Homo sapiens: one gene and its partners. Changing the gene in region 1 together with any one later gene gives a genetic interaction. Each region holds a gene or a part of one and is shown on either strand. Other genes may lie near its edges.

What was found.
Region 2: changes in ETAA1 (region 1) and C15orf39 are lethal when combined (synthetic lethality), as found in Homo sapiens cells (one large-scale study listed by BioGRID).
Region 3: changes in ETAA1 (region 1) and PAGE2B are lethal when combined (synthetic lethality), as found in Homo sapiens cells (one large-scale study listed by BioGRID).
Region 4: changes in ETAA1 (region 1) and PATJ are lethal when combined (synthetic lethality), as found in Homo sapiens cells (one large-scale study listed by BioGRID).
Region 5: changes in ETAA1 (region 1) and KRTCAP2 are lethal when combined (synthetic lethality), as found in Homo sapiens cells (one large-scale study listed by BioGRID).
Region 6: changes in ETAA1 (region 1) and ZNF839 are lethal when combined (synthetic lethality), as found in Homo sapiens cells (one large-scale study listed by BioGRID).
Region 7: changes in ETAA1 (region 1) and FZD2 are lethal when combined (synthetic lethality), as found in Homo sapiens cells (one large-scale study listed by BioGRID).

The regions. Positions count from the first base shown.
Region 1 is NC_000002.12:67,403,571-67,407,406, reverse strand, and holds part of ETAA1 (ewing's tumor-associated antigen 1), read right to left. Parts: coding exon 2,072-3,836; intron 1-2,071. UniProt on the Homo sapiens protein: Replication stress response protein that accumulates at DNA damage sites and promotes replication fork progression and integrity.
Region 2 is NC_000015.10:75,200,418-75,204,946, reverse strand, and holds the start of C15orf39 (uncharacterized protein C15orf39), read right to left. Parts: upstream 3,066-4,529; 5' UTR 2,888-3,065; intron 1-2,887.
Region 3 is NC_000023.11:55,073,492-55,078,109, forward strand, and holds the start of PAGE2B (putative G antigen family E member 3), read left to right. Parts: upstream 1-1,538; 5' UTR 1,539-1,623; exon of another isoform or gene 1,624-1,765; intron 1,766-2,528; exon of another isoform or gene 2,529-2,542; coding exon of another isoform or gene 2,543-2,550; coding exon 2,551-2,634; intron 2,635-3,077; coding exon 3,078-3,186; intron 3,187-3,907; coding exon 3,908-4,033; intron 4,034-4,618.
Region 4 is NC_000001.11:61,745,388-61,749,223, reverse strand, and holds part of PATJ (inaD-like protein), read right to left. Parts: intron 2,126-3,836; exon of another isoform or gene 2,092-2,125; intron 1-2,091.
Region 5 is NC_000001.11:155,170,169-155,174,498, forward strand, and holds the start of KRTCAP2 (dolichyl-diphosphooligosaccharide--protein glycosyltransferase subunit KCP2), read right to left. Parts: upstream 3,137-4,330; 5' UTR 3,057-3,136; coding exon 3,053-3,056; intron 2,725-3,052; coding exon 2,570-2,724; intron 2,461-2,569; coding exon 2,397-2,460; intron 1-2,396. Other genes in the region: TRIM46 (tripartite motif-containing protein 46), read left to right, coding at 3,799-3,861. UniProt on the Homo sapiens protein: Subunit of STT3A-containing oligosaccharyl transferase (OST-A) complex that catalyzes the initial transfer of a defined glycan (Glc(3)Man(9)GlcNAc(2) in eukaryotes) from the lipid carrier dolichol-pyrophosphate to an asparagine residue within an Asn-X-Ser/Thr consensus motif in nascent polypeptide chains, the first step in protein N-glycosylation.
Region 6 is NC_000014.9:102,318,297-102,322,699, reverse strand, and holds the start of ZNF839 (zinc finger protein 839), read right to left. Parts: upstream 2,955-4,403; 5' UTR 2,935-2,954; coding exon 2,647-2,934; intron 2,628-2,646; exon of another isoform or gene 468-2,627; coding exon of another isoform or gene 366-467; intron 11-365; exon of another isoform or gene 1-10.
Region 7 is NC_000017.11:44,555,909-44,560,317, reverse strand, and holds the start of FZD2 (frizzled-2 precursor), read right to left. Parts: upstream 2,835-4,409; 5' UTR 2,630-2,834; coding exon 932-2,629; 3' UTR 1-931. UniProt on the Homo sapiens protein: Receptor for Wnt proteins.

The DNA of each region.
Region 1 (3,836 bases):
AAATATCTAGTTTGGGCTATCATGTAAAGCAAGCTTGTCCAACCCGCAGCCCGCAAGCTACCCGCAGCCCAGGATGGCTTTGAATGCAGCCCAACACAAATTCATAAACTTTTTTACAACATTATGAGATTCTTTTGTGATTTTTTTTTTTTTTTTTTTTAGTTCATCAGCTGTTGTTAGTGTCAGTGTATCTTATGTGTGATCCAAGATAATTCTTCCAATGTGGCCCAGGGAAGCCAAAAGATTGGACACCCTTGGGTGTAGAGAATTATTTACTGTAAGTTTTGATAAGATAAATTGGTATAACTGCTTCGGATAGAAATTTGGTGGTATCCATCAAATTTTAAAACTTCCTCTTGTAGCAATTTTTTAGGAATTAACAGATACAATTATACAAGCATGCGGAAATTTATGCAGAAGGATATTTACTGGAGTATTGTTTGTAATTGCAAAAGACTGCAACCAACCCAAACTTCCATCACAGAGAAACAGTTAAATTATGATACATCCACCATATATATCACATAGTCATTAACAGGACTAAAATAAATTTATATGTACTAATAGGAAAAGACAGCTATAATATATTAAGGCAAAAGCAAGTTGCCAAATAGTGGGTATACAGATTTATTAATATTTAAATAGATCTATAGGTATATATATATGCATACACATATATACGTACATACACACACACATATCTTTTTATATTCATAGAAAATGCTACATCATACCAACTATTAATAGTGGTTTTCCGTAAGGGATGGTTATCAGAAAGGAGAAACAGAAGACTTAACTTTTTCCTTTAAATTATTCTATACTGTTTTACTTTTCTTTTTAAATAACTAGCATATTACTATTGTAAATTTTTAAAAAAAGTCACTTAGATAGGAAAGTTGGAACAGTAATGCCAACAAGACAGAGAAGAGTCACTAAATATTTAATTTCAACTTGTGATGAAAGCAATTAGGAAATAAAAAATAAACAAGGAGATCTATTTATAGACTCTTCAAGGAAGGCCTCTGTGAGAAAGTAGTACTTATACTGAGATGTAAGAAAGCACCAACAAAAGAGTGGGGAAGGGGTCACATGTTGAAAAGAAGTAGTTTTAGTCAAAGGGAAGAGCACGGTCTAAGTTCCTGGACAAGGAAGAAAAACATACACTGTTTGAAAAACTAAAAGATAGCTGGTATAGCTGAAGCTTAGTAGGTAAGGAAAAAAGAGGAGACGCAGGTTAAAGAGAGATAATCCACAGCTTTGTTGGTCACAGTATACAGTTTGGATTTTATTTGAAATATGACGGGCAGCCATTGAAGGTTGTTTTAAGCATAGAAACGCCATTTTTGCCCATCCAATTTTAAAAGGCTATTCCACTGTTTGGAGATAAGAATTGAAAGGAGATAGATAAAAGAACTGCAGTAGTCTCATCAAGAAATGTTAACTTGTTGTAGAAAGAAAAATGGAGTCTGGGGATACGGTTTTTGAAAGAATGAAACTTATTGATAGAATGGAGACTTGGGGAAAAGAGAAATTGGAAGAATCAGAAATGATAGCTGTTATCAAATAAGTAAATCATAATTTTAACCATCACCGCTAGCACGTTTATATCAAATATCACACTAGTAAAGACGTTTAATTAGAATGCTCTAAATTTCTAAATATTATTTACCTCACTGCTTCATCATCTGCTTCCCAGATTACTCAAGTTTTAAAACAATTTAGTAAATACAATCTTAATGAACACTATAATACATATATCTAAAGGTATGATTTTCCAAGAAAGAATAAGTTATTCAAAAAATATTTACTGAGTACCTACTATATGCCAGTCATTGTATTAAGTGCTGGGAAAGAATTCAATGTAATATTTTGAAAAATAAACCAACTACTCTGTATAATGCCGTATAATTATTTCCAAGTATCATTTTAAGAATTCTAGTTAATTCTTAAAATTAACTAGTCATAGAATAGTTTTACCTTATACATTACTCACACTCAAAAACAACAAATAATTATTTTACTACTTTTTAAGATGCTTTTCAAAGAAAACTATTTCATATTTCATACATACCTTTTGAAGATTGTTTCAAAGATTCAGAAAGTTTCACCAAAGATTGCTGTCCAACAGCTTCCTCCAGTAATGGGTTGACACCTTTCTTTTTCTCCACACCCTGTGTAATTTTGGTATCAGACATACTTCCAGTTATACAATTTTGATTAAACTGAGAAAGAATCTGAGAATTTTTCATCCTTGTAAATGTAAACTTTGAAAATCCAACTGTTGTGTTAAGGTTGCTCTGAGCTTCATCTGTTACAGTCTTATGGCATGGCTGATTAGTACTCAATTTCTTCTTATAAGTAGTAATTTCTGTATTCATATGATCTGAAGTTACATTCAAACTTGAACTTCCTGGAAGAACCAATTTGGAACTATTCACTTGTATTGGAACATCAGTGTTAGTATAAGACACATGCAGATTATTTATCTGACAGTTTGAGATCTTAGAATACATAGTCAAATTTGTGGCACCTAAAAATCTTGGAGAATTTCCATACATTTCCCCTTTCTCCATCTTCATTGGCTTATCTATTTGTGAGCTATTTGTCAAAGATGTCTGCACTGAAATGCTGCCTGGATTCAAATGCTTTGATTGTACCAAATTACTTCCTTGTTTAGATATAGCAAACATGTTTTTGGCTCCATGTTCGGAATTATTATTGATCTCACATATACTTTCTGATGTCTTACTGTCCTTTCTAATGTCTTGTTGCTGAGTTAGTTTGGCTCCATGTTCGGAATTATTATTGATCTCACATATACTTTCTGATGTCTTACTGTCCTTTCTAATGTCTTGTTGCTGAGTTAGTCTTTCAATATCATCACATGCTTGGTACAACAAATCATCATCTACATCATCTGCTTCCCAGGTATTATCTAATTGATGACATGCTTTAATAATTTCATTGGCAAATGAGGGATCATTCCAATCATCAAAGAAAGAACCTACTTTTGATGCACTAGTCTGATTTGGGTTACTAACACTGGTTTTACTGCCTAGATTTGCAGAGCCAAAAAGATCAGTATTAACAGGGGCTTTAATAGACTGATTTAAAATGCACTTATTTTTCTGTTCATTAGAATACCTTGTGTTCAAAGCTGACTTCCTTTCAGAAGCTTCAGTAGAGTTAGTAAGAATATCTTCCTTTATTTTTGTCAGATTAGATGTAACTATACAATTTTGAATTTCGTCTTGAATAACAATTTTATTGGAAGAGTTCTCAAATTTCATTTTATTTCCAGTGGATAATTTGTTTGATTTATTTGAATTTGGTGAAAATCTATATTCTGCATCTATTAATTCTCTGTCATATGTCTTTGAAGAAAGATCTTGTAATACTTTTGAATCTCCTAACCTGGCATCTGGACTTGTATTTGCTCTTGACGTATTTTTAACAGTTTTACTATTAAAGGTACAAATTTCCTTTTGATCAGTAACATGGGCTGTTTTAGAAGGAAAGAGTTCAGGCATGTCGATATTTTGCATAGCAAAAGGTTCACTACCTAGTAAGTTTTCCCAATCATCCTCAAAATCACTTGTAGTAAATGCATCAATGTACTTATTAGAAGTTTCTGGCTCCTTAGTACAGGAAGTCACACATGATTTTGTCATTATGGGTGTATCTACTTGAGAAGAAAGTGATCGTGGGGTTTTATTTGACAGTTTTTCAATGACCAGAGTTTCATTAGTAATGATTTTCTCCTCTTTCAAAGCATTTGTCTTTACAAAGGTAGTATTACTGGTGCTCCAAAAAGCCTCTGGCAGTTCTTGGCTTAA
Region 2 (4,529 bases), on another chromosome or scaffold:
AGCACCAGCAGGAAGGTCCCAGAGCATGAGGAGCCTGGATCCACCCCCAGCCCCCAAGCTGCAGATGGCGATTCCTAGGCACATGGCAGGGTGGGGCCAAGACAGCGTCAGGGGCGTGTGTGAAAGTCCAGGGAGGTGGCTAGGTGCTGTGGCTCACACCTGTAATCCCAGCACTTTGGGAAGCCGAGGTGTGCGGATCATTTGAGGTCAGGAGTTCAAGACCAACCTGACCAACATGGTGAAACGCTGTCTCTACTAAAAATACAAAAAAATTAGCCAGGCATGGTTGTGCATGCCTGTAATCCCAGCTACGCTGAAGGCTGAGGCAGGAGAATTGCGTGAACTCAGGAGGCAGAGGTTGCAGTGAGCCAAGATTGTGCTACTGCACTTCCAGCCTGGGCAGCAGAGTGAGACTCCACCTCAAAAAAACACAAAAAACAAAAAACAAAACAAAAAAAAAGAAAAGAAAAGAAAAGAAAAAAGTCCAGGGAGGGAGGCCCCAGGGGCCAGAGTGCTACTTAGCCACTACTCCCATTGTATTGATGGAAAAACTATGTGCTGAAAAAAGACAAAGCTCTAAGACAAGACCAAGGAAGGATGGGGACTGAGGCCCCTCAGGGCAGCAGGCACCCAGTAACCCGTTAGGGGCTCATCTGAAGCCTGTCTTCTGGGGCCACACTGACCTACCTCTACCTCCCCCAGCCAGCACCCTATTCCTGGAAACTCTCAGTAGCTTAGAAAGGACCACCTAGCTCAATCTTGCTATGATTAGGGCAAAGTGTCACAGGTTTCAGTGACTGGCAAGCAAGGACCAGCCCTCTCCTTGCCTCTTCTGGTTGGAGCCAATGACAGCCACAGGCTGAGTTAGACCGGCACATTTTGGGGTTAGAAAACACAAGGCTAGTGTGGGGGCCAATGCCCACTTCCACCAAGGCAGACCCAGAAAGCAAGCTGGTTCATCTCCTGGACAGAACCCCACACCTCAGGCCAGCCTAGAGAAGACACAGAGGGGCCATTAGGACACAGGTGACAGTCCCAACAGCAGTGTCCTATGATAGAAACCTGCTATCGAGGGGTGAAAGCCCCCATCTCACTCCACAGCAATGCTGTGAGAAGGAACTGTAGGGTTTTGAAGTGTGGATCCTCCCCACCTCCACCCTTGGGACACTCTGGGTTAAGTACTGACTTTGGTCTCACCTCCCCCACATGCTTCTTGGGGTCTGCTGGGTCCCCACCCCCACCCCAGGAGTCCCTCTCTCCTGGGTCTCAGCCCATGGAATACCCTTTGCTCTGGAGACTTCTTGAGGCCCCTATCTGGGACCCAGTCAATAGACAGGAAACCACCTGGGACCCTCAGGAGTCTTTGTGGGAGGGGTGGCGGCTTCAGGGAGCCAACAGAGAACTCTTAGGGGTGTGGGAATGACCTGATCTCCTGCCAGTAGGAGGTGGAAAGCCCAGGATACACTCTCTCAAGGGAGACGACTCCTCCACTCAAGACAGTTGCCAAAATGTAGGTGCCTCCTTCCCTGACCCATACTGAGGCAAGCAAGCTCTCGGAAAGGGCAGGTGCCCAGGGAGCAGGCTCAGATCATCCTTGAGAGGCAGCTCTGTTGATCCTCTCTGCCAAGCTCCAACGTCACTCAGCCAGCACCCAGGCCAGGGTCCCGGAGAAGAGCCCACCACCGCAGCACCGCCCCTGCCTTACGCAGTGGGAAAGGAAACAGCTCTCTGTTCCCACTTTCACCTTCTAGGGGCCTCGGGATGGCCGATGGCAAAGACCAGGAAGAAGAGCGCGATTCCTGCCCAATTGTGGCCAGCATCTGGATTCTCCCGGAGGGCTGGATCGGGCCTCGCCGAGTGTTCTCCCATCTCCCACCTTCCCTACCTGAGGCTCTGGGCTCTCCAGACGCTACAACCCAACCTGGGGCAGCCCAAAGTCTCCAGTGGAGGGGAAAGCGAACGGGATCGGTCTCTATCCCCTTTCCCCTACCCGCCCTGAACATAACTCGGGTGCCTAGGGCCCACAGCCGATTTCGCTTAGAGGCTGCCGCCGCACCCGACCTGGCGGGCTTCCGGGTGTCCCCAAGCCCCTCCCGGCGGCGCCGAGACGCACGTGCATCCAGCAGGCTGACACACAGGCCGCCGCCACGCATGCAAACCCGTGCCTGCACGTACGTGCATGGCCCACATCTGCACACACGCCATTCCAGAACTGCGCTCTCCCCTCGCTCGGGCCCCGGGCATACGTGTGCACGCAGGCAGGCCCGCGCACCCAGCCCCACACCGACGCCCGCGGACCGGCGGGAGGTCCCGGAACAGGGGCGGCCCGGCGACAGGGTCCGGGCAGCCTCCGCCTCAGGGCGATCCTGCCAGCCTGGGCTGAGGCCAGAGGGGTGAGTCAAGAGGTGGCGAGAAAACCGCAGGGCCGTCCCATCCCAGCAGGGCGCGTCCAGGGCCCCGCGGTGCCTCAGCGCCCGGCGCCCCCAGGCCCAGCCCTCCAGTGCCCCCTTGTCCCCATACCTCCTCCTCAACGCCATCCCCCAGCAATCCACGTGACAGGGTCCTGCGGGAGGCCGGAGGGCTCGGCCTGAGTTCCTTCTCGCCAGATTAGGCGCCTGTTCTCCGCCGGAGACCCAGAGCGCTACCAGGTCCCGGGAGCCTCGAAGTCCGGGGAAAGTCGGAGCAGCAGCGCCACCCCTGCCCCGCAGCCCGTTCGCGGGGGGCCGGCGGCAGCCAGAAGCCGCAGCCCCTCGGCCCAGGCGCGGCTCCCTCAGTCCCCGGGCCGGCCGGTAGGGGCGCCCTGGGGCAGCGCCACCCGCCCCTTCTCCACGCGCCGCCCGCAAACTCGGCCCAAGTTTCCGCGCCCGCCGAGCGGGCGAGCTCCTACCTGCAGAGCGCCAGGACTCCCGCCGCCGCTACCCCAGGCGGCCTCCGCGTCCGCATCCTCCAGCGTCTCTCAGGCCGCGGGTCCTAGTCCGACCGGGCCCTGCGCGGGAAGTCGCAGTGAGCACCAAGCCCGGAGCAACCCTCCTAGCTGCCGTTCGCGCCGCCGCTGGGCGCCGTCTGCGGTCCCGGGCGGGGCGGGCTGGGGGCGGGGCGGGGGCGGGGCGACTCGCAGGGTTGGGGAAGAGCCCGGCCCCGCCTCTGGGAGCCTGCGCTCCTGTGGGCAGCGGGTGCGGAGGGCCCGCGTGGGGCCAGCTCGCTAGGAGCGGGCTGCGGGCGCTGTGCACCGCCCGTAACCGCCACGCTCCACGAACCAGTGCCCGGCGGGCCCGTCACGCGCCCTCAGTCGCTCCCTTAGATCGTTCATTCACTGCCACTTGCTGCGATGTGACCTTGCGCCTGCCGCTTGACCTCGCTGAGCTTCAGTTTCCTTATTTGCAAAAGTGGAATTCTGTCTTCCTCATAGCGGTGGCGGTGTAAGCTTGGAAAAGGGTGTTTGCAAATATCTGGCACACAGTAGGTGCCGGCATTCCCCTGTCCAGCACTAGTGTATTAGGGGGCTGGAGAAGGGCTCCTTGATCTGTCCCCTCATTTCGTTGTAGTCAATGAGGGCAATTTCCAGACTCCTGCTAGGGCACGGCAACTGTCTGAGGAAGCGGCAATCTCCCCATCCCTGGAAGGGCCGGGAATGAGGGTGCTGGGGGATTTGCAAAGTAGCCTGGGTGAGGCTCCCTCCATGAGGCAGACCGGCGCGCAGCCTGTGAGGCGGGTGGAGTGGAGCACGCCCAGCCAGGAATGGTGTGTTGCAAAGAGAGGCTGGAGGGGGGAAGGGGTGCCTCTCCCTGGACCATCTGACTGTGGATGAGAGCCCCTCAGTGCTGCTACTTTATCTGAAGGAATCTGGTCCGTCAAAGCTCCTGGGCTGCCCGAGGACTGGGAACAGGTGTGTGCAGTGGGGAAGGGGAGGGCAGGTGGACATGCCAAAGGTCAGAGTCAGTTCAGGAAGCAAAACTATCCCCTCAGATCCCAAAGGTAAGTTCTGCCTGAGTCAGAGCAGAGCAGGCCTGAGGCTGCAGGTTCCAAGAATCACCAAGCAGCTGGAGCAGCTGGAGCTGAGGAGGAGGGGCTGGGCGCTGCAGGTAGGAAGAGGAAGTGAGGTCACCTGGGGAGCGGGGGCGGGAGGTGGGGGGAGAGTGTCACTTCATTTAGAGCTGGAAGGACCTTAGAAATAGAGTCGGGAACCATATAGGGAGAGACACTCAGAGAGGGTTGGGGCTTTCCCCAGGTCACTCAGCAGGCTGGGACAAAATCCCAGATCTCCTGGCTCCCAGCCTGGGGCCCTTCCTGCAGCCACACCTTAGCGTCAGGAAAATACATCTGCGCGCGGACAGCTAGGGGTCACACCAAACATCATACCCTTAACCCCAGCCTGCAGCCCCGTGGGTCACAGGCTATTCACTGCTCTTGCCCCTTACCAACTCTGCTCGCCCCTCCTCCTCCAGCACCGCGCCGGCGACCCTGTCCCTGCCCTGCTAGTGGGGTGGAAGGAGGGCTGTGTTCTTAGCCCTTGGGGTCTAGGACGCTCA
Region 3 (4,618 bases), on another chromosome or scaffold:
TTCCTATTACGCCATCTTGCCAGATCCCCGCAACCATCCCATATGAATTTTAAAGTAGTTTTCTTCTAATTCCGTGAAGAATGTCATTGGTAGTTTAATAGCAACATCACTGAATCTATAAATTTCCCTGGTCAGTTTGGCCATTTTGAAAATATTGCTTCTTCCTGTTCACGAGCATGGAATGTTTTTCCATTTGTGTCATCTCTGATTTCTTTGGGCAGTGTTTTGTAGTTCTCATAGTGGAGATTGTTCTCCTCCCTAGTTAGCTGTATTCCTAGGTATTTTATTCTTTTTGTGGCAATTGTGAATGGGATTGTGTTTCTGATTTGGCTCTGTGCTTGAAGGTAGTTGGTGTACAGAAACACTCCTGGTTTTTGTACATTAATTTTGTATCTTGAAGCTTTCCTGAAGTTGTTTATAAGATCAAGGAGCTTTTGGGCAGAGATTCTGGGATTTTCTAGGTATAGAATCACATGGTTTCCAAACAGATTGTTTGACTTGTGTGAAAAACATAGTGGAGTAGAAGCAAACACGTGTCAGCAATGGAATAGAAAAATAAAAGTGCCCATGAATAAATTTAATTTGAATGTGAAGAACTAATATGAAGCAAATAACACAGTCATTGTGTGGGATATGTTAAAAGACTTGAGGAATTGAGGAGTGGCTTTTTTTTGATAGAGAGATTCTAAAATAGGAAGATGGCTATTGTCCCAGAGTTAACATGTAATATAAAAATAATAACTAGTATCTCAACAGGAATATTTTAGCACCTGATCAAATGATTCTGAAGTTCATCTGAAAGACCAACGTGTCAGAATTGATAGAAAAGGAGAAATCAATGAGGGAGGGCAAGCATTATTTCACATTTCAAATATAATTTAAGCTACAGCAATTAAAATAGTGTAGTAGTGGTACAGGTATAAACAACTCAATGGAAGAAAATTAAAAGAAGAGAGTTACATACAAAATTGAGTGGGGATGTAGGTGATGATAAAAGAGCCATTTCAAAACAGTGGGTGCAACAGGGATTCAACAAATAATGTTGAGTTCCTACCACTTTAATTTTGTCCAGATGGATCAAAGATTTTGAACGTACAATAATGCAACCAAAAACTATGAATGTCTTATATTGGAATGGGTTAGACAATTGCAAGCATGACAGCAAACTCGTGAAGGAGGCAAGAAAATGATTTATGGAAGCGTATATAAAACAGATATTAAAATATTTAAGATTTATTTCTATGATGGTGAAGTTTTCTGAAACACATTATTAGAGTAACCTGGGGCTCATATTCTCCAAAGCCACTGGAAGTGAAAGAAAGGGTGGGCGGGGGAAAAAGAAAAGTGCTTTGCAAGTTCATTTTCGTTGTCAGGAGCGCTGGTGGTTTAGGTTCTCCACAGACGCAGGAAAACATCAGTCACGAGGCGAATGTCCCAGTCAGTGTGCATGCTGCACAGACCTGTTGCTGCACTTGTCTGTTGTTACGCATGTCTGTTGCTACACGTGTCTGTTGTTGCGCATGCGCCTTGCTGCCCGCCTTCTGTCCACACACAGCTCTGCAAGGAGAGTGTCTTCATTCTTTCCGCCATCTTGATTCTTTGTCACTGACCGAGACTCAGCCGGTAGGTCCGCAGAGCGGTCTTCCTGGGAATTTAGTTGTGGGTGAATGTGTGGAGGAGCCAGCTGGCTTTGGACAGGTCCTGCGGCACAGTCCGTGGCTTCCGAGGGAAAAGGGCCTCGCGGTCGTCGTCCGGCCCCTCCCAGGTCGGGATGCCACCGTGGGACTTGTCGTCGTGGCTGGGCTGGGACGAGGGACGAGGGAGGAAGGTGGGCCACAGAGGGGAGGGATCGCGTGAAGATGGGGCGAGTGCTGGGGGTGCTGTTAGAGGTGTCTGAGTCTCGAAAACTCCTGGAACCCTCTGAGAGAGGACAGTTTCCAGACTCCTCGGTAGGGACGCGGGAAGAGACCATGTGGTCAGTAAGGAAGGGGCCTGGGAACTGGGAACGCTGTGGGCCGGTGACTGTGGCCCCGAGGTCTGTAGAGTGCCTGGCAGAGGTGTCCCGTGAGGAGCATAACGTTCACTCTGTTTCACAATTTCTCACCTCCGCCATGGACGCCATGGAAGGAATGGGCGAGGCTGTGCTTTCCAACAAGACTTGATTTTGAGAGAGGTGTGGGGGTGAAATGGGCCTAGCAAATCAGAGTGGGACAAAAGCAGTAGTCATTTCAGTTTCAATTCTCTGCCCTTTTTTCCCCCAAATGTCTTCATGATGGAGAGTCTAATTGTGAAACCAAAACGCAGAAATGTCCTCTGTCTTTTGCTATGGCGTTAAGGGGATTTCTATGCCTCTTCGACTATGATACAAACAAATCTGTCCTTAGTTTGATTGGAAAGCGTGGGTACTTATCAATGCTCTGTGAATTACGTTGAAAATATTTTCAAAATTAAAAAAATACAAATCACCATTTTGCCATGGAATGTTCATATATATAGCTAAGTTCTTATACACTTTTTCCAAATAACAGTATTCTATTTTCAGTGGGAAATATGAGTGAGCATGTGAGAACAAGATCCCAATCCTCAGAAAGAGGAAATGACCAAGAGTCTTCCCAGCCAGTTGGATCTGTGATTGTGAGTCCTTTAACATTTGATGTTTCCTATTAACACAATTTATTTTAAGAAATATTTTTGAGCTAGTGTACACGCACTGATACAGGTGTTCCATGCTGATAAAAAATGATGATGGCATCTCATGAAGGAAACGTTGGTTCAGGAATATTATATTCTGGTGTTACCTGTATGGATATGGATATTTCTCTCTCTCTCTCTCTCTATATATATATATGTGTGTGTGTGTGTATATGTATATATGTATATATGTATGTATGTATGTATATATGTATGTGTATATATGTATGTATATACGTATGTATGTATATATACATATATGTATATACATATATATGTGTTTATATATGTTGGAAAAATGTCTTTAGATGTGTGATTCGATGCACATATGCATTTGTGTATTTATATTATTGACTTTTTATTCACACACACACTTACACCCTTAGGTCCAGGAGCCCACTGAGGAAAAACGTCAAGAAGAGGAACCACCAACTGATAATCAGGGTATTGCACCTAGTGGGGAGATCGAAAATGAAGGAGCACCTGCCGTTCAAGGTGAAGGGAGAGTGGAGAATAATGCTTATGGGTGGTGGAGGTCTATTTATGCATTGTATTTTATGACATACCAGTAACAGGAGGACAGAAAGCATTAGGAAGGAATCTTAAACATTTCCTACTGCTGCTGTGTGGAGGGGTGGGACAAGGACGCATAAAAAGCCACTAAGCTTTCCTACCACTTTGACGGAGGCTTTTTATTGATTGGGTATTTTCATGGTTGCCATAAACCTTTTTCCAGAGCTCCTGTATGCTTTGTTCAGCCATTTTCTGTTTTTTGTTGCTGTGGAAGAATGGCAGCTTGCAGCTTCCTAGTCTGCCATCTGTGGACACGTCATGTATTTTTTAAGAAACTTTTTAACACACCTTTATTGATGCTTCCTCATACCACGTAATATACTAAGTGCTGGAGATGTCAGTGCCAAATTTTTGCCTAAAGCTCATAGTCTAGTCAGATTGACTCAAACAAATCGCTGATTTAATGTGATAAGAATAAGAACAAATGAGTACAAAAGGGACAAGTAAGTTGTCTAGGGCCAGCCTTGGGAAAGGAAAGGGCAATGTTTGAACATCTCTGCTTTCCTGTTTTCCTGGCAGCAGATTCCTGAAATAATTAGCCTACAGGTTTTTACTTCATAATGATGAGGGAATAAATATTATCATTTCCTTGTTCATAGTTCATGTTTTAATTTGTAAACTGATGACCTTTTTATCTTTTAAGGGCCTGACATGGAAGCTTTTCAACAGGAACTGGCTCTGCTTAAGATAGAGGATGAGCCTGGAGATGGTCCTGATGTCAGGGAGGGGATTATGCCCACTTTTGATCTCACTAAAGTGCTGGAAGCAGGTTTGTTATTCATTTAAGATGCAAACTATTGTATTTCTATTTTCACAGTATTTTGTGTGACACAGAGGTAAAATTACTGCTACTTTAATATCATACTTCACGTCTGAAGGTTCTTTGAATGTAGTTCAGACCCCAAATGGCTGCCTTACACACTATCAGGGATAGAGGGCCAGGTGTGGTGGCTCATGCTGTTAATTCCAGCACTTTGGGAGGCCGAGACAGAAAGATCACTTGAGGCCAGGACTTCCAGAGATGGAGAAAAATTGGGTCAAAGCTAATTGGATTACGATATGAAAGATATGAAACATGCTAAAACAGTAGATTTCAAGTGTCTTCACAGCTATATGAAGTAATGCATATATTAATTAGCTTGATGTAGCCATTTTACAATGTGTATATATATATATTTAAAACGTCATGTTTTACATGATAAATATATACAATTTTATGTGTCATTTTTAAAGAAAGATGAAAACGTGTTCTGACTTTTAAATGTAAGTCATTTTACCAACAGCCAATAATTTTCAAATATTTTTATAGAGGCCTGTTTTTAACAAATACATAACATGTTTATAATAAGCATCA
Region 4 (3,836 bases), on another chromosome or scaffold:
CCAGCCTGGCCAACATGGTGAAACCCCTGTCTCTAATAAAAATGCAACAAGAGCAAAACTCTGTTTAAAAAAAAAAAAAAAATAGCTGGGCGTGGTGGCGGGCACCTGAATCCCAGCTACTTGGGAGGCTGAGGCAGAAGAATTGCTTGAACCCAGGAGATGGAGGTTGCAGTGAGCCAAGATGGTGCCACAGCACTGCAGCCTGGGCAACTCCATCTCAGGAGAAAAAAAAGAAAAAAAAAATTACTTCATATGTATACTGCAAACACTAAAGAGGATAATTTAGAGCATTTGGCCTAGCACATGGTACACATTCAACAAATGATAACTACTATTAGCATCTCTTTTCAATCAAAATGATTTAAAACATGGCAAAACCCCATCTCTACAAAAACAAAAACTAGCTGAGCGTGGTGGTGCGTGCCGGTGCGTGCCTGTAGTCCAGGCTGAGGTGGGAGGAACCCTTGTGCCCAGGGGGTCAGGGCTAGTGAACCATGATCATGGCACTGCAAAAGCTAATAATTAAATTATTGTAGCAGAGATTTTAGTGTGTAATCAGTAAGTTAGTTCTGAGAAGACTGAAAAATAAAATGTTTCACCACTGTAGTGAGTATAAGGGAGGAGGTTATAGAGAGGACCTATAATTTGGAGTATTAATCCATTTACATGGCCAGGCGCAGTGGCTCACGCCTGTAATCACAGCACTTTGGGAGGCTGAGGCGGGCGTATCACTTGAGGTCAGGAGTTCGAGACCAGCCTGGCCAACATGGTGAAACCCCGTCTGTACTAAAAATACAAAAAATTAGCCAGACGTGGTGGTGCATGCCTGCAGTCCTAGCAACTCAGGAGGCTGAGGCAGGAGAATGGCTTGAACCTGGGAGGCAGAGGTTGGAGTGAGCGGAGATCAAGCCACTGCACTCCAGCATGGGCAAAAGAGCAAGACTCGTCTCAAAAAAAAAAAAAAAAAAAAAAAAAAAGGCATTAAGGCAGTATACACATAGCAGTGTAAGTGCTTTGGTAAACTAAACCCTCTTAAGAATAAACATATTCAGATCAGTGGCTCACACTTGTAATTCCAGCACTTTGGGAGGCCGAGGCGGGTGGATCACGAGGTCAGAAGTTAGAGACCAGCCTGAGCAACATGGTGAAACCCCGTCTCTACTAAAAATGCAAAAATTAGCAGGGTGTGGTGGCGCACGCCTGTAATCCCAGCTACTTGGGAGACTGAGGCACGAGAATCACTTGAACCCAGGAGGCGGCTCCAGCCTTCGCAACAGAGTGAAACTGTGTCTCAAAAAATAAAAATTAATAAGATATTTTAGATTCCTTTTTACATGAAATCTGTTCAAAATCTTGTGTGTATTGTGCATTTACAGCACATTTCAATCCTAACTAACCCAATATAAAGTGGCCCATGCCCACGTGTGAGAGTGGCTTACTGTAGTAAAGTTTTAATCTATGCCTTTCCAGAAAGATCCCTGTTTGGTTTTGTTTTTTCTTCCTCCACCGTGTTTTTAGGAAAGACTTCATCAGTTCAGCTCATATGGTCTCTATGCCTTTTCTTAAAGTAACTATCTGAGTAAGAGCACTCACAAACTTGAGTTCTTCCCAATAAAAAGATCACAACTCCATAATTTTACCGGAATTAAACATAAGGGAGGAACAAAAAGCAGGAGAATAACAGCTTACAGATTACAAGACACATTCTTGAACATTCTTTTCTTTCAACCTCGCCAAATCTCTGTAAGGCAGACCATTTGCAAATGGGACCAGATTCTGGAGGACCAGAATTAAATGACTTGTCAAGCGTTATATGGTAGGTGGACCCAATTCCTTGTCTCCAAACTTTACTGGCTGGACAGCTGTACGAACACAAAAAATAAGTGAGCTCTACATCTTCAGCATCGATCTATCCCACTGACTTAAAAGGAAGGGTATTGACAGGCACTAAATTTCTCCCCATTTGCACCGGAACCTAAAATAAGGGCTTTAAAAAAGGCATCCAAATCTACACAAAACCCTAAGGAAGAAAACATAGCAATGGTCATGCAAATACCAAGGTAGATTGGTCCCGTTTCTCAAAAAACTTACCAAGTTGGCTCACCAAGGGGAGCAAAGTCTTAAGTGAACAAATTAAATCCCACTTTGGCTTCCCCAACCTAATATATTCTTGTTAAACTTTAACAAAGCAAGTAAATTCAGCCTGCTGGCTCCTCAGTGTAAGGATAATTATTAAATGCTGTTAAGTAAAAATGCAATTGTAAGAACTAGAAAATGCTGAGTCATTGTCTCAGAATCACAAGGTTCTAAATGTGAATTCACTATGAGAACATATATACAGATTTTTCTCTTTAACTTTAAAAATGCAATCTGAAAGAAAATACATCCTAATGTTATTAGTGGTTATCTCTCAATAGTAGTCTGTGTACTTTTAGTTTCTTTTTTGAAAATTTTCTCCAATTTTTCTACAATGAATATGTTAGCTTTATAGTTACAGAAATATTAATGTATGGCTTAAACTTATTACGGTTTCATTAAATGCAGAATAGAGCTTAATTTTCTATTCAGCTTCAAACACAACTATTTTTCTGATGGGAAACCCATTTTATGTGACCTTGTGATATTGCATATTGGTTTTCATCCATGATTCCTGGTTTATAACTCCCATAACTCTTGTTACAGTCTTTTATTATACTGTTGGGGTGCTTTAAGTCTCAGAAGCAGTCCCCAGAAATATCTCTGACACTCTCCTGCCCCTCCTTTCATTCGCTCCTTTTTCTCCCCAAGGCAGGACTCTAATCTTCCCCTGCTTTTCCATCTTGAAGGTGGCTGTAAAGAAATTCTCTGGGCCAGAAGGGTGGCTCACGCCTGTAAGCCCAACACTTTCACAGGCCAAATCGGGAGGACGGCTTGGACCAGGAGTTCGAGACCAGCCTGAGCAATATAACGAGACACAGTCTCTACTAAAAATTTTTTAAAAGAGGCCAGGCGTGATGGCTCACATCCGTAATCCTGGCACTTTGGGAGGCCAAGTCGGGCAGATCTCTTGAGGTCAGGAGTCCGAGACCAGCCTGGCCAACATGGCAAAACCCTGTCTCTACTAAAAATACAAAATATATATATATATATTACCCAGTGGTGGTGGCGCACACCTGAGGTTGTGACGCTGAGCCAGGACAATCGCTTGAACCCAGGGAGGTGAAGTTTGCAGTGGGTGGAGATCGCGGCACTGCACTTCAGCCTGGGCAACAGAGTAAGGCTCTGTCTCAAAAATAAATAAATAAAATAAATGAATAAAAATTTTTAAAAAAAAAAATAATTGCCAGGCCCGGTGGTTCACGCCTGTAATCCCAGCACTTTGGGAGTCCAAGGCGGGTGGATCGCCTGAGGTCAGGAGTTCGAGACCAGCCTGGCCAGCATGGTGAAACCCCATCTCTACTAAAAATATAAAAATTAGACAGGTGTGGTGGCAGGCGCCTGTAATCCCAGCTACTTGGGAAGCTGAGGCAAGAGAAGCGCTTGACCCTGGGAGGCAGAGGTTGTAGTGAGCCAAGACAGCGCCATTGCACTCCAGCCTGGGCAACAGAGCAAGACTCCGTCTCCAAATAAATAAATTAATTAATTAAAATAAAATAAAGTAAAATAATTTTGGCTAGGTGCAGTGACTCACGCCTGTAATCCCAGCACTTTGGGAGGCCAAGACAGGTGGATCACTTGAGGTCAGGAGTTCGAGACCAGCCTGGCCAATATGGTAAAACCCTGTCTCTACTAAAAATACAAAAATTAGCCAGGTATGGTGGCACATGTCTGTAATCCCAGCTACTCAGGAGTCTGAG
Region 5 (4,330 bases), on another chromosome or scaffold:
ATTGAATTAAAAAAAATTTAGCCAGGTAGTACAGTGGTACACATGCCTGTAGTCCCAGCTATTCAGGAGGCTGAAGTTGGAGGAACCCTTGAGCCAGGAAGTTCAAAGTTGCAGTGAACTGTGATCGCACCACTGCACTCCAGCCTGGGCAACAGAGTGAGACCCCGTCTCCAAAAAAAAAAAAAAAAAAAAAGAACATGGATGTAGATGTATGCTTTTTTTTACCAGCTCTGCCCCATATCTCACATAACTTCCCTACCCTGGCTTTCCTCCCATAAAAGGAAAAAGGAAAGGTGATGGACAACAGAGTCTGAAGGGCAAGGTGTGTTCCCATTTGGGGAACCCAGTTAAACCCTTTCCAAAAGAAGCCAGACAATGAGAGTCAATTCATTAAGCTGGGTGACCAGTGGTGGAAGTTGAAGGCCTTGCTCCCTGGACACAGGTTGGAGGGCAGAGTGCTTGGATCTACTTCTTCATGGGGGCAGGAAAGGATTTTAGGTTACCTGGAATATGATGGGAGAGAAGGTGAGAGGACAAAAGCAAAGACAAACAGGGCCCCACCTGCCCAGGTGGAGAGGGCAGAGAAGGCAAAGTGGGCCAAGAACTTTGCCCCACCACAATGGCATCTTTTCTTTTTTTATTATTTTTTTTTATTTTTGAGGCAGAATCTCACTCTGTCGCCCAGGCTGGAGTGCAGTGGTGCAGTTTCAGCTCACTGCAGCCTTGATCTCCTGGGCTCAAGCGATCATCCCACCTCAGCTTCCCGAGTACCTGGGACTATAGGTGCGTACCACCATGCCCGGCTAATTTTTGTATTTTTTTGGAGAGACAGGGTCTCTCTATGTTGCCCAAGCTGGTCTTGAATTCCTGGGCCCAAGCTATCTGCCAGCCTACACCTCCCAAAGTGCTAGGATTACAGGCGTGTGCCATCCCACCCAGCCAATGGTTTCTTTCAGAAGCAACTGAAAAGCCAGGCACAGTGGCTCACCCCTGTAATCCCAGCACTCTGGGAGGCCAAGACGGGTGGATCACTTAAGGTCAGGAGTTCAAGACCAGCCTAACCAACATGGTGAAATCCTATCTCTACCAAAAATACAAAAATTAGCCAGTTATGGTGGCGCACGCATGTAATCCCAGCTACTCGGGAGGCTGAGGCAGGAGAATCGCTTGAACCTGGGAGGCAGAGGCTCCAGTGAGCTGGGTTCACACCACTGTACTCCAGCATGGGTGACAGAGCGAGACTCCATCTCAAAAAAAAAAAAAAAAAGAAGCAAGTGAAGGTAATACATATGGAAACAAAACCTAACAGAGAGAAGTCCCGGGGCTACTGGATGGAAAGAACTCTGAAGCCTGCAAAAGGGCTATGCGGAGAAAGCAAGTCCTAGAGGGGGGCAAAGAAATGAGGGCAGCCAGGCACAGTGGCTCACACCTGTAATTCCAGCACTCTGGGAGGCTGAAATAGGAGGATCACTTGAGCCCAGGAGTTCGAGACCAGCCTGGGCAATGTGGTGAAACCCCATCTCTACAAAAACTTAAAACAGTAGCTGGGTGTGGTGGCACTCACTGGTAGTCCCAGCTACTGGTAAGACTGAGGAGGGAAGATTGCTTGAGACCAGGTCAAGGCTTCAGTGATCACATCCCTGCACTCCAGCCTAGGCGACAGAGTAAAGCCTTGTCTCAAAAAAAAAAAAAAAAAAAAAAGAGAAAAGATTAAGGGCAACCATGATAGATCTTTGTTTTACCACATGAGGGTTTTACATGAGATTGCATCTGCTGTGAATTTCTGAGCACGTGGCATTCCTTAAGTAATCTGGCCTTGACACTTAATTTGCTTTATAAACTTAATTCTCCATAAATAACTGAATCATCAATTCTTGATTACATGAGCAATTGAACAAGAATTATTCCAAACAGGAAATAATCTAACAGTTATTCTGATTTGGTCAGGATTCCTGCTGCCATAGATATTTGGTGCCTCTAGTATTTAGGCTCTTCACAATTCCCTCAAATAAGTAGAATTCTCTAATATTGAGTTAACTTCACATCAGAACTCCATAGTGAACTTGGTCCTGCTGCTTCTTCTGGTGGGAACAAGGACCGCCTCCCAGCGAATAGATGCAAAACATCAGCCCAAATTTGCCTGTTCCCCTCAAACCTTCCCTGGGAGCTGGCCAGAAGGTACCAAAGTTTCTTGCTTTCAAAGGCCTTCTCTTCCAGCTCCAACTCCAGGAGCTATACAAGGTGCAGAATCGAAAAGCGTCATCTGTCTTCAGACAGCTTCAGTAAATATATTTCTCCTTAACAACCTTTCACCTAAGCATCTGGAAATTCAATATCATGTTTCAGGAGGTTAAAGAGGAGAAAGTTCAAATACTCAAGCTCCAATATTCACTTACTCTCAGGGAAGATCTTTGCTTGGAATCCTTTGCCAAAGACAAGATTCTCCAGATTATTGAAGGCCTGGTTGAGGGAGTTAAGGAGTAGGGTGTGCAACGGGGACAGAGCTGTGTGGGGAAGGGGAAGGGCACATGCCTACGTGGCCCGCCCCCTCCAACTGCAGGGAGGATACAGTGAGCGAGAACACGAAGAGACCCGAACCAAGCAGGCCGCCCTGGATGGTGAGCCACTCGGTGGAGGCCAGCTGACGGCTGTACATCTGCATCCCAGCAAAGAGCAGCAGGGACAGGAGGGAGGAGAGCGCCAGCGAGGTGCCCGTACCCACCACTGGAGGGGATGGGAGAAGGGACGGAGAGTCAGGCTCCGCCCTCCCTCCGGCAAGCTACGGGCAGATCAGCCGGTCCGGAAGCTCGGTGGGCCGACCCCCTCCAAGAACTCCCGGGACTGCAGCCACACGCCCCAACTCCCCACACCGCGCGGCAACCCCTACGTATTCCCCAGCCCCGGACACCCCGAACCCTCCCGTCCGGTGGAAATGCCCGCTCCCGGTGGAACCCAGGACACGTCAGCTCTGTCGGGAGAGGACGAGGAAAGCTTGTCCACCCAAACCCCGACCCCCTCTAGGACTTCCTGGGGACCCCACCGGTCCTGTTACCCATCATGCCCCGCCCGTGAGTCCAACCGGCGCCTCTGGCCAAGAAAGGCGAGCTGAACCGGGTGCGGTTAGCTATGCGCATGCGTCAGCGCTTACCGCGGACTTGCTACTCCTCGCGTTCTCCTCTTTCTTCCTCTCAGTGCCTGGACGCAGCGCCCTCTTGCGACAGGGAGGAAATAATGCGTCGAGGGGGCATCCTCGGCCACCGCCCTGGTCCTCAGGCTTTCCTCGTACCTGGTGCGTCTGCTGCCACTCTGTACAAGGTGCACTTATCTCTTTAAGTCATTGGGCCCATGCCTGTGGCATCTATCCCATCTCTGTCTTCTTTGCCATTTCTTTCATCTCTAGTGCACGTTCCTCAAACCTCCCTGCCCCATGCCTCAACATCTCCCAACCTAAAATTTAGTGCTCCCAACCAGGAACTCATTTTCCTCCGAAACTAATCCCCCGCTTTATATGAGTAAAATTAGGAGCCAATGAAAAATGAGAATGTAAGAAATGGCTCCCCCGTCAAATACCTTTCCATATTCCCCAACCCCCCGACCGGCTTTCGAGAACCACGTGGGGAGAACTATTTCCCACCCCCTACCCCGACGGGCGCTGTTCGAGGCTGGTCCCGGGAGCATGCGCAGTGACACCTCAACCCCCAGCCCTCCTCACACCCCCACTGGGCTCCTGCATTAAGCCCGGGGTTCGCAGCCGCAGCCGGGATCGGGCACCCAGGGGCGGGCGGGCACGGTAGGGCCATGGCAGAGGGTGAGGATATGCAGACCTTCACTTCCATCATGGACGCACTGGTCCGCATCAGTGTGAGTTAAGGTGGGGTCGAGGGAAGGGGAGGGGGCGTATAGGGTTCTGGGGCAAGCTGGGACCTGGAACAGGTGGGGATCCAGGAAGATGCTGGGATGTAGACAGGGGGCTAGCGATGGCAGAAACGGCTGGGAGGGTCGGGATGCAGGTATGAGAGGGTAATCCCGGGAGCAGCCCGGAGGTGAGTGCCGTGAAGGCGTCGGTGTGCTGGAGCGTGAGGAGGAGCTAGGAGCAGCCCAGACGCAGCGGGTGGGCTGGGGTGGCCTCCAGCAGTGCACCGGGGCTGGGGCTTCAGGGGAAAGGCCCTGTTATGAGAAGAGGGACGTGTGAGCTTGGATATTTTCCAAGAAAACTGAGGACAGGTGGGGGATGATGTAGGAGCCGCCCCACAGTGCAGTTCCCAATTTGGACCCCTCCCCAAGACCCCACCCCACGCACCCCCACTCAGGGCTGCTTCCGAGCCTGCGG
Region 6 (4,403 bases), on another chromosome or scaffold:
CCAGCTACTCGGGAGGCTGAGGTGTGAGGATCATTTGAGCCTGGGAGTTCGAGGCTGTAGTGAGCCGAGATCAGTCCAGCCTGGGTGAGAAAGAAAGACCCTGTCTCAACAAAACCCCAAAACAAAAACATAATACATATACATACATACACTAAACCCTACTGTTTGAGGATAACCACAGCGGCAAAGCCAGACTAATAATGTATTTATCCTCTATCCTCACTGGCTTACCCTGTGGGTATTATGCTTGATACTTTGTTTAGTTAATTCAGCTAATGTTAACTCAGTATTTCTGGGTGGAATACATACACAGGAGCCAAGTCCTAACCTCACCCTTGAGATGGGGGCGGTTTCCCCTGCCATACCTCAGTCCCCGCAGACCTGCTGAATCGGATCTCCTGGGGTGAGGCCCCAAGATCTGCCCTTTCAAAAGCTCCACTGATGATTCTGAAGGCAGACAAGCTTCCCTAAGGAATGCAGACAGGTGAGGCAGACAGGAAAAATGTCATCATGGTACAACAGGTGCAATCAAGAGGCAGGAACAGCCCAGAGGTGGTGGGCTGCCCAGAAGCTGTGATCTCTGAGGGGCATTTTGAAGGCTGGGAATTTTTGCCAGGTGAAAAAGGGCACACATCCATGTGTAAATGCACGGATGCATGAAAAGGGGCACAGCATGTTGGATGGAACTGGAAATTTCTGTGGGGTGGGGAAGAGGGAGGATGGGGAGAGACAGGGGCCTCGATCTGACCCAAGTGTGTCCATTGGTCTGTGCTGCTGATCCACACCACCCCCACAGCGAACACTGGGCCTTCTGCTGTGGTTGTTGAAATGCACCCCCAACCGCCCCAGAACCTGCCTCTCCCCTTCTGCATTTTCAACTCAGACGCACCCTTTCAAATCTAGTTCAGATACCACTTCTTCAACAAAGCTGCTTCTGATGTCCTCAGCCAGGAACAATCTCCCTTTCTCTAAATACATTCAGTTCTTTTTCACTATCTTTAGCTTTCTGGCCTTGACTAGAAGTTATCTGGGTCTTGTTTCATCTCCTGTTAGTTCATAAACTACTGAGGGGCAAAGTACGCATCCGGTTTGCCTTTGTGGCCTCCATGACACAGCTGGGGCTGAAAGAGTATTAAAAGAATGTGCTGCAAAGGTATATTATTGCAGGTAGAATTTATATCGTCTCCATTAGATTAGCTACAAAATACAATCCCATCATGCTGCCTAAGCTCGAATAAGTTTGCTTTTGCTTTACGAAAAATATGTCATTTTTGGATTCCAAACCCAAAAAGCTGTGGCCATATTCAGCAGGGTATGGTGAGGAGTACAGGGGCTAGGGAGAGCAGCCACACCTGAGGGACCTTGGGCAAAGCCACGCAACCTCCCTGAGCTTGTTTCCCACCTGCAAAATGCCGGTACAAAAACACTGCTGAAAACTGAGCGGCCCCGCACAGCGCCGGGCGCAGAGCAGAGGCTTTGCAGATAGCTGCCCCCAGATGGCACCTTGCAGCCTTCTGACCCAGACCAAAGTCCAAAAAGGTTGACTTACCCAAGGTCACACCTCTAGATAGTGATAGTGTGGCATCTGGACAGAATCACACTGGTCTTCCTAAACCTTAGCAAGACAACTCTCCAGTCTTGATGATTAACTGGATACAACCCTAAGCAGCTAACATCAGTCAAAAAAACTCAACGAGTGAAGGTTCCTGATTCTATTCCCTAACCCGTTTCTTCTAGTGGAAAAAGCTGTCTTCTTTTGGCAATTTTGGGGTGAGACTAATTTTGTTTACAACCCCAGCGCTGAAATGGGGTGGAATTTTACAGATGCCGTGTAGGCCCTCTGGCTTCAGGCGCTATGCTTCACCCTCCGGAGTTGGGCGACCGTCTTCTAGTTATCACCCCCCTAGCAACCAAAAGGTGTGTGGCCCAGGAAATAAACCCACTGGGAAAGGATGTTTTGTAGTATACAGAGTGCTTTCACATATTCCAAACATTGTGTATCAGGCACTGTGCTGGGTACTGCGGTTACAAATCAGTCACTATCACCCAGGATGTTAAGTCCTGCAGCGAACTAGTGTATTGTGCTTGACTTTGTTCCAAGCCTGGGCCTTGGCACCTTACAACTGAAAAGCTAAGTTGGTTCCTTTTAATTCATTTATGTTTCAGCTCCAGTGTCTGGCCTACGGGACCACCCACTCTAAAGCAGCCCCCGTCAATCCCAGAACCTGCCTTATGTTCGTTCTTCAGCAAGTGTGTTCAAGGCTTCACCTCCTGCACATAGTGGGGAGTGCTGGGAACACGGTCTCTAAGTGCTCCACAAAGGCTGAACCAGCGGTGAAAGGCCTGTAAGAAGAGCTAGGGAGCACGCAAAAGCCCCCAGCAGGGCTGTGAAGGCAGAGAAGGCACGAGGGCGTTCCAGGCACAGGGCCCAGCGTGAGCAACCGCTCCTAGAGTGAGGCTCCTGGGGTGAAAATGCCAGGGTGGTGACAGGTGGGGGCCGAACGCCGTCCCTAAGAAGCTCAGCCTGGGGACGCCCTGAGTCTTAACCCGGGCGGATACTGGCCTCCCCGGACAAGCAGCTACCCCGCCGCGGGGCGTCGGCCCCCTTCGGGCCTCAGTTTCCCCACGTCCCTCCCGACGCCTCACCTGGGGCGGGAGCAGGCGCGGCAGGCGCGGGGGCTCGGTGCCCCGGCCCCGCTGCAGGGCGGCCTGTTGGGCCGCGTCCCGCAGCCGCCGCGCCGCGTCCCGCAGCACGAAGGGGGGCGGCGGCGGCGGCGGCTGCGCCTTCGTCACCTGCTCCAGGACCTGCCGCAGCTGCTCGGGGCCCAGCGGGGCCACACGTGCGACGCTGCCGCTCTGGCCCGGAGGAGCCGGGCCGCCGCCGCCGCCGCCATCCTCGCTGCCGCCCCCAGCCTCCGGCTCCGCATCCGCCATGGCGGCCGAGGCGGGGACTCGAACCCGGGTCGCTGAGCGACGGCGTCTCCAATGTACGTCACCTAGGAGAGGGGCGGGCTACGAGTGCCTCGCAGGCCAAGACACCTAGGAAGGCGACCGTGTCTGGCCGGGAAAGTCGTGGAGTGCCCCGCCCCAGCCGACAACCGCCGCGGCTCTTAGGGCTGATCAGCAGAGCGGACCCCCCTTATTTTCCTTATTGCCTGTCACGGATGTGTTTAAGACTCACCTTCTCTGGGAGCTGTCCCGGATCTCCCAGGGGGAGGTCTTCGGGGTTTCAGAGCCCCTGGCCCAAAAGTTACCACAATATCCAAGTGTTCTGACGTCATCATGCATCCGAATCAGCGGAGGATGCTGTCTGGAGATGCAGAGTACTGTGCCCACCCCTAAACATTTGGATTTATACATCTGGGAGGGGACCACAGTTTGAATTGTTAACGAGAGTGTTTCCCAAATTTTTGCCTTGTCACCGTAGCTTCTCTCTACCCACCCACCCAGATTGGGTGCACCTTGAAGGGAGAGATGATATATTACACAATCGGTGCCCAGCACAGGCCCTGCCCAGAACACAACGCACGCTCAGGGCATGAATGATGGATGGATGAATATGAATAAACGAATGAGTGAACGAATGAATGAACCCACCCTCTCTCTATCCATCCAGCTCCACTGCCCCATCTTCCTCAGCCTGATCGCCTCTCCTTCTTACGGTTGAGGCTCTGTGCGCCCTCCGAATCTTGTAGCTGCAGGTGTGTACACATGTCCCAGCTCCTTTCCCCAGGGAGAGCAGGAGGTCCACTGGTCCACAAACCCTTCTTAAGCACCTGGTGGGTGAACCGCTGTTTCCGCCCTGGGGGGTATACAGTCTAGGTGCCGACCCCCAAGGAGGAAACTTCCCAAGGGGGAAGGAGGAAACTGGCATTTGCAGCACAGTATGATGAGCGCCGAAGCCGGTAAAGTAAGGCTGGCGGCCTGGGTGGCGTCAGAGAAGGTTCTGGAAGATCACCACCATCCTCATCAATACTCACATTGCATTCACGATGATCCCTTCCGTGTTATTTTTTAATGGTGAATTTTATATTATGGGTATCTTACCACAATTTTTTTTTTTTTTTGAGACAAGATCTCACTCTGTCACCCAGGCTGGAGTGCAGTGGCACAATCTCAGCTCACCGCAACCTCCATCGCCTGGGTTCATGCGGTTCTCCTGCCTCAGCCTCTTGAGTAGCTGGGATTACAGGCGTCCGCCACCATGCCTGGCTAATTTTTGTATTTTTAGTAGAGACGGGGTTTCATCATGTTGGTAAGGCTGGTCTTGAAACCCTGACCTTAGGTGATCCGCCCGCCTCGGCCTTCCCAAGTGCTGAGATTACAGGTGTGAGCCACCACACCCGACCAGATTTCAGGAATTCACATGCCTTCTGCTCAAAATAATTTTCATGCCACCGTGG
Region 7 (4,409 bases), on another chromosome or scaffold:
GAGGTCTCAAACTCCCCAGATTTGCAAACAAGTGCTCAAAGGCGAATGCTTCCCCTAGACATGAAGGGAGGCAGGATCAGTACTCCTGGTGGGGTGTATGTTGGTGGGGGCTGTTTCAAAACACACTTCAAAAAGCATTTTTGGGCCACTGGAAGCACTTGGTGCAGCGAATTGAAAAGAAGAGAAGCCAGACAGGAGAAAGATCTTCCAGCCTGCAGGGGAATGGGCCAGGGGGTGGAAGCCATTCCTCACCGGATCTCTGCCCTCTCCCCACCAGCACACCCCGACCCCGATTTTTTTTTCCACGTCTTCATCTCTGTTGGGACTTTTCCAAGAGTGAGTGAAGAAGACAGGACAAATGAGTAGGGAAAGAAAAGGGGGAAGGAAACAAAACGAATCCAAGTCCTGTTCAAAAATATCCAACGGCTTCCACAGGCCCAGCGTCAGAGAGGAGGCTCACAAATTTGGCTTTTATATTAGTTGAATGGAACAAACTCCTAACGACTCAAAGCCAACAAAAACAGCGCTCAGGCTGGGTGCCTCTCCCATCAGGCCCAGCCCTGCCATATCACCAAAAAACTCCAAAAGTGGGGCGGGTTTTGAAGGGCACTTAAGAAAGAGAACCCTCCCCCCAACTACACTCCCCAACACACACACACCTCATTCTTCAGTCCTGGCGCCCACACCCCTGTTTTTTTTTCTCCTTTTTTCTTTTAAATAGAAAATATATATAATTAAATTTACAAAGACTATTTACAGTTTTAATTACAAACCTTGTGGGGGTGTTGGGCAGAGAGTTCTCTTTTAAAAAGCAACCTAAAAGTGAAATGGTTTCGATCGTTTTTTATTTAAAAAAATAAAATACGGAGTCTGTAGGGGCCCCACCCCGGGCGGAGGAAAGCGCCGCGCGGTTCCGGCCTGGGGGCGTCCCTCACACGGTGGTCTCACCGTGTCGGCTGTTGGTGAGGCGAGTGTAGAACTTCCTCCACGAGTGCAGCGTCTTGCCCGACCAGATCCAGAAGCCCGACGTGATGCCCACGATGAGCGTCATGAGGTATTTGATCATGTAGACCGTGAAGTCGGGCGACATGCGCGGCGTGTAGTGCGCCGGGCACGGGATGGCCAGGCTCTTGCAGTGCTGGCTCACCCACGAGCGCTCCCAGTGCTCGCGGAAGGCCTGCTCGTAGAAGTAGCAAGCGATGACGATGGTGGCGGGCACTGTGTAGAGCACGGAGAAGACGCCGATGCGCACCATGAGCCGCTCCAGCTTTTCGGTCTTGGTGCCGTCGTGCTTCATGATGGTGCGGATGCGGAAGAGCGACACGAAGCCGGCCAGGAGGAAGGACGTGCCGATGAACAGGTACACGAAGAGCGGCGCTAGCACGAAGCCCCGCAGCGGGTCCAGGCTGTTGAGGCCTACGAAGCACACGCCGCTCAGCAGGTCGCCGTCGATCTGGCCCATGGCCAGGATGGTGATGGTCTTGACGGCCGGCACGGCCCAGGCGGCCAGGTGGAAGTACTGAGAGTTGGCCTCGATGGCCTCGTGGCCCCACTTCATGCCGGCTGCCAGGAACCAGGTGAGCGACAGGATGACCCACCAGATGGAGCTGGCCATGCTGAAGAAGTAGAGCATCATGAAGAGGATGGTGCAGCCCTCCTTCTTGGTGCCCTGCACCACCGTGCGGTAACCGTCCTCGGAGAAGCGCTCGTTGCACACCACGCGCTCCTGGAGCACGAAGCCCGCGATGTAGGCCACCGACACCATGGTGTAGCAGCCCGACAGAAAAATGATAGGCCGCTCTGGGTAGCGGAAGCGCTGCATGTCTACCAAGTACGTGGTGACAGTGAAGAAGGTGGAAGCGCAGCACAGCACCGACCAGGTGAGGATCCAGAGGCGCGCGAAACGCGTCTCCTCCTGTGAGAAGAACATGGAACCATCGGGCCGCGCAGGTTCGCAGGGCGCAGCACAATCACGCTCGCCCAGAAACTTGTAGCTGAGATAGGATGGCACCTTGAGGACGCGCGGGCAGTGGAAGGGGTGCTCCAGCGTGGCGTAGCGCGGGGGAGCGCCGCCGCCGCCCGGGCCACCCGGGGTGCCCCCGGCACCCGGCTGCAGTCCCGGCGGCGGCGCGGTGGTGAGTAGCGCGGGAGCTCCGTCCTCGGAGTGGTTCTGGCCGACGCAGATCTGCTCGGCGCCGTGGCGCGGGAAGTGCTCGCAGCGCAGGCGCTCGGGCCACTGAAAACCGAACTTGTTCATGAGGGCTTCGCAGCCCTGGCGCGCGCGCTCACAGATAGAGCGGCACGGCGGGATGGCCTGTTCCAGCACGGTGCACACGGGTGCGTACATGGAGCACAGGAAGAAGCGCAGTTCGGGCGAGCACTGCACCTTCACCAGCGGATAGAACTGGTGCACCTCTAGGCCTGCGTCCTCCTGGTTCGTGTGGCCCAGAAGGTTGGGCATGATGGTCTGGTTGTAGGCGATGTCCGTGCACAGCGGGATGGAGATGGGCTGGCAGAAGCCGTGGTCCGGGATGGAGATGCCCTTCTCCCCGTGGAACTGGGCCGGCCCGGCGGCGGGCAGCAGCAGCAGCGGCAGCAGCAGGCGGGGCAGGGCGCTGCGGGGCCGCATGCTGGCCGCCGCCCCCCACCCGGCTCCTTGGCGCCCCCCCCGCCCCCGCCCCCAACCCGGAGACTGCGCTTCTTCCCCGCCGCCTCCTCGCTGCGGCTGCCGCCTCCCGCGCCTCTTTGCAAACTTTACTCGCGGCCGCAGAGTTGGGGAGGCCGGGCGGGGGAGGGGGCGGTGCGCCTGCCCGCTTGCTTGCCGCGGTCGGACTGAGCAGCCGGAGACACCGCGCGCTGCTGCCCTCTCTCCTCTTCCTCCTCCTCTCGCCTCTCAGCTCCCCCTCTCCCCTCCCTTCTGCACCCAGCGACTTCTTTGTGCCTCCTCCAGCCCTCACCTCGGCCTCTCCGATCCCAATTAGTCGGTTTCAAGGGGGCCCCCGCTGGCGGCCCCGCCCTCTCCTCAGCCCCCCAAAAAAGGGATCCTTGAAACCGCCCCGTCGAGCTCTAAGCACCAACCCAAAATGTGCTCTCGGCCAATCAGATTTAAACCCGAGGACCAGGCCCGAGGGCTGGATTGGTCGACCACAACATAATGAGATCAGAAACCAGATGCCAACAAAACTTTCCCCCCCTTTTGCTTTTTAAAGAGACAAGCTATTATTATATTAAGGGCTGTTTGCCCAGCCCGGGATTTCTCCGGAGTTGCCGCGGCGAGATCGGGGGACACTACTCGACCCTGGCTCACTCCTCTTCCCGGGCCGAGGTGCTCTGCCGGGTGGGGACTCTTTAAACCCTTGCCCCCGCCCCCGATCCTCGAACCCCACCTATTCCTAGTCCAATTTTTCAAATCGAGTGAAAAATCTCAAATTTAAAAATTAAAACAGACTTTAAAAAAACTAACAATTTACAAAGACCTTTTCTGTCCGCTCTTTCTGGAGCCCAGGCGAAAGTTTCACTTCACTTTACACGTAGATCCCTCGCCCTCCCCCTCCACACACCCTTAAAAAACCCTCTGAAAAATGGGATCCTGTCTCTTTAAGAGACTCTTAAAGGGACCAGGACTCCGAGGCGTAATTGCCCCGTAGCCAACACAAAGGAGCCCATTATGGTTCTTTGTGTTCGGTGGCACCTCAAAGTGAGAAAACTCAGGAACTCGGAGGCCCGGAGCTGGAGGGTTGGGGCGGGGGGCTTGGAGGGAGCGAGGGAAAGGAGAATGGCCCGGAGCTGCGGCTTCTCCCTCCCGCTTCTTCTGCGGCAAATCTTAATTGTGCAAAGTAAAGTTTAGTTGCCCTAAGGAGGAGGTCTTAATCGAAAGTTAATGGTGGGGGGCGGGGGGTGACGGGCAATTTTGAGTGAAGGGACGACTCTCTTAGGCCTGACGAACGTTTGAGGGAATTTTCCTTCTGCCTCCCCACCTCTACCTCCGCCCCCTAAAAGCTTCCAGATCCCGTCTCCAGGGCGAGAGGGGAGTTTTACCCAAATCTTAAGTGGTTCCACACCAGAGAGGGGTGGCGTGTGTGACGCGGGAGGAAACTGGGGGGTTGTGGTGAATTATCCCCTCCACATCTCTCACCTGGTAAGGGGTGGGGTGTGGCCAGCAGGGTTCCTGCTACTTTTAGAATTTTTCTTTTCCCTTCTAGGATTTTAAATTTGGAAAGGGGTCGAGGAGGAATTTGCATGTAAATCTCCTGGGCCTGATACTGGATGATGGATCAATTATTTTCTGTTGTCTCTCCCGAGGGACAGGGGAAAGGGGGGACTTAAAAAGAAGAAAGAAAATTGAGTTTAGAAAGCCCCTTTGCTTCACAGTATGGGCCAAATCCTCACAGTCTGGTGAAATGTTTCTT